Regions from separate parts of the Homo sapiens genome. Here region 1 is linked to region 2. The links come from fine-mapping of genetic effects on gene expression. A gene starts in region 2. The other region holds a variant in brackets. All regions are shown on one strand. Distances are from middle to middle.

Evidence for each region. PIP is the estimated chance that this variant, and not a neighbour inherited with it, causes the effect. A credible set is the group of variants that fine-mapping cannot tell apart.
Region 1: its variant is the best candidate, but not a certain one, in a credible set for the expression of LINC02894 in lung (TOPMed, PIP 0.59).

The regions. Positions count from the first base shown.
Region 1 is chr8:94,614,198-94,618,582 of GRCh38, reverse strand. No RefSeq gene overlaps it. Among named protein-coding and RNA genes, the nearest start is that of LINC02894, 23 kb to the left of the region's middle. The variant C/T (reference allele first, on the strand shown) is at 2,328.
Region 2 is chr8:94,637,640-94,642,024 of GRCh38, reverse strand. LINC02894 (long intergenic non-protein coding RNA 2894) reads left to right here and starts at 2,558. Exons shown (of 1, transcript NR_034034.1): 1 at 2,558-4,385. ESRP1 (epithelial splicing regulatory protein 1) reads right to left here and starts at 851. Exons shown (of 16, transcript NM_017697.4): 1 at 575-851; 2 at 1-69. The coding sequence starts at 706.

The DNA.
Region 1 (4,385 bases), 23 kb after region 2:
TAGCTTGTTCCATTTCATTGCTGAGTTCATTTGCTTTTTTTTTGAGACAGGGTCTAGCTCTGTTGACCAGGCTGGAGTGCAGTGGTGTGATCACAGATCACTGTAGCCACAACCTCCTGGGCCAGAGCAATTCTCCCACCTCAGCCCCCCATGAGTAGCTGGGACTATGGGTGTGTGTCACCATACCCTGCTAATTTTTGTATTTTTAGTAGAGATGGGTTTTTGCCATGTTGCCCAGGCTGGTCTCTGGGCTCCTGAGCTCAAGTGATCTTCCCACCTCAGCCTCCCAAAGTGTAGGGATTGCAGGCGTGAGCCATGGTGCCTGGCCCTCATTCACTTTTTTATTCTGTGATTGTAAACAACTACCTTTGGAGTTTGTGCTTTTCTACTTGTAGGGCCTTTGAAATTACCTTAACCCACCTAAGCCTCCATTTATTCATCTGTTTGTTGTTTTTTTGTTTTGTTTTGTTTTGAGACGGAGGCTGTATCCCAGGCTGGAGTGCAGTGGTGCAATCTTGGCTCACTGAAACCTCCACCTCCTGAGTTTAAGTGATTTTCCTGCCTCAGCCTCCGGAGTAGCTGAGACTACAGGCATGCACCACCATGCCTGGCTAATTTTTGTATTATTATCATTATTTTTGAGACGGAGATTTGCTCTTGTTGCCCAGACTGGAGTGCAATGGCGCAATCTCCCGCTCACTGCAACCTCTGCCTCCTGGGTTCAAGCGATTCTCCTGCCTCAGCTTCCCAAGCAGCTAGGATTACAGGTGCGTGCCACCACAACCGGCTAATTTTGTATTTTTAGTAGAGACGGGGTTTCTCCATGTTGGTCAGTCAGGGTGGTCTCGAACTCCCAACCTCAGGTGATCTGCCCGCCTCAGCCTCCCAAAGTGCTGGGATTACAGGCGTGAGCCACTGTGCCCGGCTAATTTTTGTATTTTTAATAGAGACAGAATTCTACCATGTTGGCCAGGCTGATCTGGAACTCTTGACCTCAAGTGATCCACCTGCCTCAGCCTCCCAAAGTGCTGGGATTACAGGCATGAGCCATTGCACCTGGCTGTTGTTGTTGTTTTAATGATGGGAAATTGACAATAGTATAGTTTTCCCCAGGATTGATATAAAGATCAAATGAGATGATAAGCATAATGATGCGTTGTGAACTGTGCACAACACATGTAGAATGTTATGATAATGGCCTTATTATGGGTCCTCCCATAAAGGAAGCTCCTGTTTTAAATTTTGTTTTCCCTGCTTCTTCCAGACATATCAAATTATTCCCATTTTGGGATTTTCTTCCAGCCAGCTAAACCGAAGGGGAATAGGGATTTGACTTTCAGGCCTCCCTTGAGGAAACTGCTTACTTGCCGCAGAGAGAGAGAGAGAGAGAAAGCATGAAGCTTTCAGGGCTCTTTTCAATTATTCTCAAACCCATTCTGATTGCAGGATACTCTGTGCGATTTGCACAACAGCATCCAAATTGATCAAAACAACTCCATTATTACATACAAAACCAATTTATAAGGCAGAAAAAAAAATCCCTCTAATTCTGTGTGCGCAGCCTAAAATCACATTCACAAACACACATATCCGTGAAAAAGAGCAGGATGTCTAAGTGTGGTTATCTCTTTTTGAGTTTTTCTGTAAATATTCATTTTACGTCCTACTAGAGCTCACTAGAAGACAAGTGATAACTTCTAAAGATTGAAGAAAAAATTTAGGGGAGATAAACTTAAAATCAGAAAATTCTACTTATTAACCTTTTTTCTTTTCTCAAACAAGGAGAAGGTACTGGTGGGAATGTTTCTGCCCAGTTCATCTTTTTTTCTTCTGAGACTGAGTCTCACTCTATTGCCCAGGCTGGAATGCAGTGGCATGATCTCGGCTCACTGCAACCTCTGCCTCATGGGTTCATCTTCTACTCGAATTCAGGTAAACCAGAATTATCTGAGAATTCCAATATAGATTCCAATTTCCTCTCGTACTAATTTAATAGATTTGGCATAGGACCAGGAAACTGTTTTTTGTTTTTGTTTTTTAAAGTTCATTGGGTCATTCTGATGTCGGCCAGGTTGGAAACTTCTATTTGAGATTTTTCTTCAGTGCCCTCTCATGGACTTTTCCTGACATATCTGGGTATTTCTCTTTCCTGTAAAATCTGTCCTTATGGAAGTTTTCCTTTCTATCAAAACCTAGTTCCACTGGGTTTTCAACTTCCTTCCTCCCCTGGAACCACCCTTGTCAACGTCATGATCACTTCTCTCTCTCCTCTTAACAGCGCAGCAGCATTTGACTTTGTTGACCATAACCTCTTGACCTGAAATACC[C/T]TCAACCCTTATTTCTGAAATGTTAGACTCTCCTATCTCTCAAATTCTTTTTTCTCAGCTCCTTTACTGGCCCCACCTCCCCTGCCTCACTCTTCAGGGTCCTGGATCCTGGAGCCCTGGCTGGGCTCTCTTCTGCTTTGTCTGTACTCTGTTCCTAGGTGCTCCTGTTTAGGTAGCTGGCTTTAAATACTATCCATATGCTAACAGCATTTACAGTTCTACCTCTTCCGGAGCTGCCTGCTTGACATCTCCCTTGGATATCTACTCAGCATTTCAAATTCATCAAGTTCAAAATAGAACCCTTGGCCAGGTATGGTGGCTTCTGGCAAAGTGCTATAATCCTAGCAAGTTGGGAGGCTGAGGCAAATGGATTGCTTGAGCCCAGGAGTTCGAGACCAGCCCTGGCAACATTGTGAAACACCGTCTCTACTAAAACCAACAAAATCAGCAGGCATGTTGGCATGCGCCTATAGTCACAGTTACTTGGGAGGCTGAGGTGGGAGGATTGCTTGAACCCGGGAGGTCGAGGCTGCAGTCAACCCTAATCCCACCACTGCACTCAAGCCAGGGTGACAGAGTGAGACTCTGTCTCCAGAAAAAAGACACACACACACACACACAAAAGACAACAACAAAAAAACACGACAACAAATATAGAACTTCTTTTTTTTTTAAGAGACAGGATTTTGCTATGTTGCCCAGGCTGGTATTGAACTCTTGGCCTCAAGCGATCCTCCCTCCTTGGCCTCCCAAAGTGCTGGAATTACAGGCATGACGCACTAGGCCCAGCCCAAAAATAGAACTCTTGTTTCCCCCATCGACACCACCAGCCTGGTTCTACAGTCTTCCTCATTTAATTGAACAGCGCCACCATCCAGGCAGTTGTTCAAGAGAAAAATGTAGCTCTTATCTTCCTTCCACTTCTCACCATCTTTCTGCTACTTCTCGAGTCCATGCCACCATCATCTTTCATTAAAACTATTGCAACTGTTCCCTAATCGGTTTCTCTGCTTCCATTCTTGCCTCCTTAGAGCTGATGCTCCACTGAGCACTATTTAAAATGTAGTCTGGGTGTGGTGGCTCACACCTGTAATCCCAGCACTTTGGAAGGCCAAAGAGGGAGACTGCTTGAAGCCAGGGGTTCAAGACCAGCCTGGGCAACAGGGTGTAGTGGTGCCTATCTGTAGTCCCAGCCACTCAGGAGGCTGAGACAGGAGGATTGCTTGAGCCAGAGAGATGGAGGCTGCAGTGAACCATGATTGTGCCAGTGCATTTCAGGCTGAGTAGGCAGAGCAACACACTGTCTCTTAAAAAAGAAAAAAAATATAAATGAGGTCAAACCACTCTCTTGTTTAAATCCCTCTAACGACTTTGCATAGCAAATAGAATAAGATACAGCCCCTTATTTTGTTTTTGTTTTTTATTTTTTATTTTAAATTTAAAAAAAATTCTTTTCATAGAGACAAGGTCTTGCTATGTTGCCCAGGCTGGTCTTGAACTCCTGGGCTCGAGCACTCCTGTAGCCTCAGCCTCCCAAAGTACTGAGATTACAGGCATGAGCCATTGTGCCCAGCCCAGCCCCTTATTTTGAAGCCTACAAAGTCTAAACAATATATCTCTGAGCCCCCACAATGCTGGCTCCTCTTCCCACAGATCATTGCTTTGCAGACTCCGTGGCATTTCAAGGTTGTCGAGCCTTGGCTCAAACATCACCCTTCCTGAGAGAGACTTTTCCTGAGCTTCTAATCTGAAGAGTCCTCCAACCAACAAGAAAGACTCTCTTCTTTCTTGTCACCTGATTTATTTTCTTCATTGCCCTTTCACTATCTGAGATTTTTTTTTTTTTTTTTTTTGAGACGGAGTCTTGCTCTGTCACCCAGGCTGGAGTGCAGCGGCACAATCTCGGCTCACTGCAAGCTCCGCCTCCCAGGTTCAGGCCATTCTCCTGCCTCAGCCTCCCGAGTAGCTGGGACTACAGGCGCCTGCCACCACGCCCGGCTAATTTTTTGTATTTTTAGTAGAGACGGGGTTTCACTGTGTTGGCCAGGATGGTCTCGA
Region 2 (4,385 bases):
TTCTTCTTTGCAGTCCTCCGTCAGTTCCAACTGATCCGGTCTAACTAGCACTTCGTGCAACTGTCCCACCTCCGAAGGTAGAGAAGCACGGGTCAGTTTCCCCCAATTTCGGAGCCTCTTTCTGCACCCTCCTCCCTCGCTCCCCTGCTGGGGCGGCCCGCGCCTCTCTTGGGGTCCGGACGCAGAATCAAAGCTCTCGACTCGCCATCGGTTCCGGTGCGTTCCTGCCCCCCGCCCCACCCCCCACCCGATAGGTCGGAAAAGCCCTGGAAGTGGACCCCGGGGCCTCCGAGACCCCACCTCGTCTCGGCGGAGCGTCCCCCGACGGGCAAAGAACCCGGCTCGGTAGCGCCGGCCTCTCCACCTGAGCTAAGTTGCGGAGGACTGAAATGGCTCCAAGGCAGTTGGCCAATAAGTTTGGTTTTACTCTAGCTTCCCTAGGCCTCGGGTCCAGACTCACAAGTGGGCAAACAAGAGCACTTATTTACTTACCTCCACCCCCCTCCCCGCCCAAACCTCTACCACAAACTTCTTGCCCCATTCCTTGCATTTAGACGAAAATGTGGAGAAATACCTTCTTGTTGGCCAGATCCACGACTTTCCAGAACAGCAGGATCAACTCCTTCTCATCCGAGCCTAGCTTGGCCCCGGTGGCCCCAGCAGTGATCCCAAAAAGCACCACCAAGTAATCCGGAGAGGCCGTCATGACGATAGGTGGGGAGGGGGAGAGGGGGGGTCGGGAGGCGGTAAGGTGGTGTGGAAGTGAGAACGAAAAAACCTGTGCTAAACCCTCTTCTAAGAGAAAAAGAAAGAGCGCCCACCCCCCTTCCTTGCTACTGCTAGTGCAAAAGGCGGTAACCAACCACCCAAGCCCACACCTGGTCGGTGCTCCACGCCCAGGGCAGGAAGGGGGGTGGGAAGGAGGGCGCAGGAGGCCTGCCCTTTTTGTATTCAGTTGCCCGGGCGTCTATGCAAAAAGCCTGGAGCAAGGCTGCCCCCCCCGGGAGGCACGCAATGGCTGAAAGCTTTTCTGTTTTGGGATGTGGCTTTACCTGCCCGCCCCTTCCCCCTCCCCCACGTGGTGCAGGTAAGAGACACCTGGCGGCGCCGGCCCATTGGCTCCTTCAAACCACGACGTGGCAGCGGTGGGGGAGGAGGCCGCTTCGGGAGGGGGAGGAAGGGGCGGGAGACAATGGCTGGATGAATGGAGAGGCGAGGGCAGGGGAGGAGGAGGGGGAGACGTGAGGGGCAGGGAAGAGGCGGTTGACACCCAGAGGGTAGACGAGGCCAGACGGGGAAAGGGCTCAGAGAGGTAAAGGGCTCGGAGTCGCTGGGGGGAGGGGTTCCCACTGGAGGTAACTGAGAGGTGCAGGGGGGCTCGGAGAATACCGGCTGCAGGGAACGAAGCCGAAGGTTCTGAACGGTCAAGCGAAAAGGCCAGGTGCAGGGAGGCGAAAGGAGGCCAGAGGTGAGGCCCGGGGCGCGGAGCTGCCCAGGGCGCGGCGCAGGCGGAGGACGAACTGCTGAGGGAGGGACCTGCCAACCGCAGCCAGGAGGTGGCGGGGGCAACTGCAGATCCCCGGAAAAGCAGCTCCTGAGCCAACACAACTTTCAGTGCAAACAGCAGGAGAAATCCTGCGAGCCCCCCCTTCTCCGGGCCGGAGCCCGGGTGCACGCTCGTCCCAAACCCGCCGCGCTGCCCACCTTCCGGAGAGGAACCCCGCGCGCGGCAGAGCCGGACGCCAGGGGCTGGACGCCCAACCACCTAGTCACTCCCCAGGACGCAGTTATCGCGCGCAAAGCAGCTGGGGGACCCCGCAAGGAAACTCAGGCACAATGGAGCCCGCTTCTTTTTCTGTCAACTCTGAATGCTATGTCTGGTTTGGTCCTGGCTGCTAGTTCGAAGCTGGAACATCCTCCAGAGCTGGGGCCCATTTCCTTTTATTTGCCTTGGGCCCCAAATGAAAAGCATCTATCCGCATGCCTAATAAAAATTTTCTTAAATCGGGCCACGCAGGCTTTTTCCCAGGTTCTGCGCCCTGACCCCATTCCCTCTGCTCATGCTTTTGGCATTGTATTGGAGTGTGTTGACTTGACCAAGCTCCCAAACAACCTCCCTGCTCCACCTCAGCTTGGTCTGCCCAGAGGCTCGTACCCCAACCATCACCCCCCAGCCACCAGATCGGTGGCAGTATGTTGTTGGGTCTTGTTGACATTTTAGAGAGAAAAGCGCCAGAGGTGAAGTTTTCTCGGGTTTTATATCTCAAAGCGATTTGTTCTTGGGAACAGAATTCTGTCTGAAGTATTAATAATTCGGCTCTAGGTGTCCAGCCCCGTTCATATTCATGATGTGAAACGGGCAACCATGCACCTATCCCTGCAGAACCCACTCCGGGTACAAATCCGGTAACCTTTCAAGACGCGTGTCAAGGGAAGCTGGAGACCTGGCTTTCCCAGTGGGGGTTCAGCTCCCGGGAGGGGGGAGAGGAGCCCGAGGCCCGCGCCGTCTCGTTTCCTGGTAGGAGAAGGTGCAGGCGGAGGCGGGGCCTCCCGTGATACAGGTGGCAGCTCTCGTCCCCTGAGAGCGGGCGAAGGCCAGGGTCCCACACTCGCAGCGCTGCGACGGCGCTCGGGACCTCCCTCGTCCACTGCTTGAGTTCCAGAGGTGGGTGCTTCCCTGTCCTGAACTTCAGAGTGCGGAGTCATAAATGGGTTCCGGCTGGCTTACTGCAGTAGCCTCGCTCCTCCCCAGCCCCGGTAACTCCGAGCTACCCGTCCAGGCCCTCGGGCGTCGCGGGGGCAGGGACTGGGCGCGGAACGAGGCAGGGAGGGACCTGGAAAAACCACCCAGATTGCATTGCAGTGGGCGAGGCCGCCTGGAGGAGCCGGTTCCCCCTAACCACCTCCCCGTGGGGCTCTCGGTGCGCGGTTCCCAGGTGCTCAGCTCTGCTGGGCCCAGGAGGTGCCGCCTCACAGGGACGCGGAACCCCGTGCGTGGCCCCCGCCGGGTGGAACAGATAGCGCGGGGCGGTCCGGAGGCTCGTCGCCAAGCAGGTGACTCTTGCTGAAAAAGTGGTTGGAACACTTGAGGAAACCCGGCCCCGCCTGTTCTTTCTAGGTCTTTGGAGTTTGGATTAATCATTTGTGTAGCCCGTTTGGATAAACCGAAGACTTTATTAAATCAGCGCGTTTAACAGGAATTCCGCAGTAGTATCCACATTAGAATCTTGAGTCTTGGAGTTGAACATATTCACACAGACTTGCCTTCTTCCTGTTTAGTTTATGCCTTGTGTTCCGTTATTGGAACGCTAAGCTTGTGGGAGTTGTTTACATCCTACTGCTCAAGGTCATCGCTAAGGTGTGATTTTTCACAAAAAGAATTTGCAACCTCCGGCATGAATGACTTAAGGGAAGTCTAATCCCGGTTTCTGATTTTTTTTTTTTTTTTAATTTAAAAGTTAATCTTTCTGGGCCGGGCGCGGTGGCTCACGCCTGTAATCCCAGCACTTTGGGAGGCCGAGGCGGATCACGAGGTCAGGAGTTCGAGACCAGCCTGACCAACATGGTGAAACCCCGTCTCTACTAAAAACACAAAAATTAGCCGGGCGGGGTGGCGCGCACCTGTAATCCCAGCTGCTCGGGAGGCTGAGGCAGGAGAATCGCTTGAACCTGGGAGGCGGGGGGTTGCAGTGAGCCGAGATCTGGCCATTGCACTCCAGCGTGGGCAACAGAGTGAGACTCCATCTCAAAAAAAAAGGTTAATCTTTCCAACTAGATTTTCAAGGATGAGGATTTTGTTGTTGTTGTTGTTGTTGTTCTCAAATGTATTCCCAGGGCTTGGAACAGAGCCTGACATATACTAGGCACTCAACAAATATTTGTTGAATGATTGTAATGAGTAACACCCATTTTTGCAGATCTTTGTCTTCTGAGCCTAGGGCATAGGTCATCACTGCAGGGGTGAGATTGTCAAAATGGGAGTCTACAGGTAATTTAAGACTTAAATGTTTAAAGAGTATGTGCTCATTCTTCAACAAACTTACTTTTGTTAAATTAAAATGGTAAAATGTGGTGGAGGGGTTGGAATATATGTAATTCAAGACAGTTCTGAATACAAAAATGTTTTACTGTCTATCACCACCATCTATAAATCTAATTCACTAAGGATAATCTGTGTAAGGTGGCTGGAAAGAACCTTGAGGAGAGAGGCTTATTTAAGTATTGGCTCAGGACCACACCTAAAATTCTCAAAACGTTGAGATTCTGTTGTTTTGTTTTTAAGCGCCAGAGACCCAAGTTGAGGAACAGCCTATAAAATAACTGGCCTGTACTCTTACATACATGAAAGCCATCAAAGACAAAGACTGAAGAAGAACTTTTGCAGA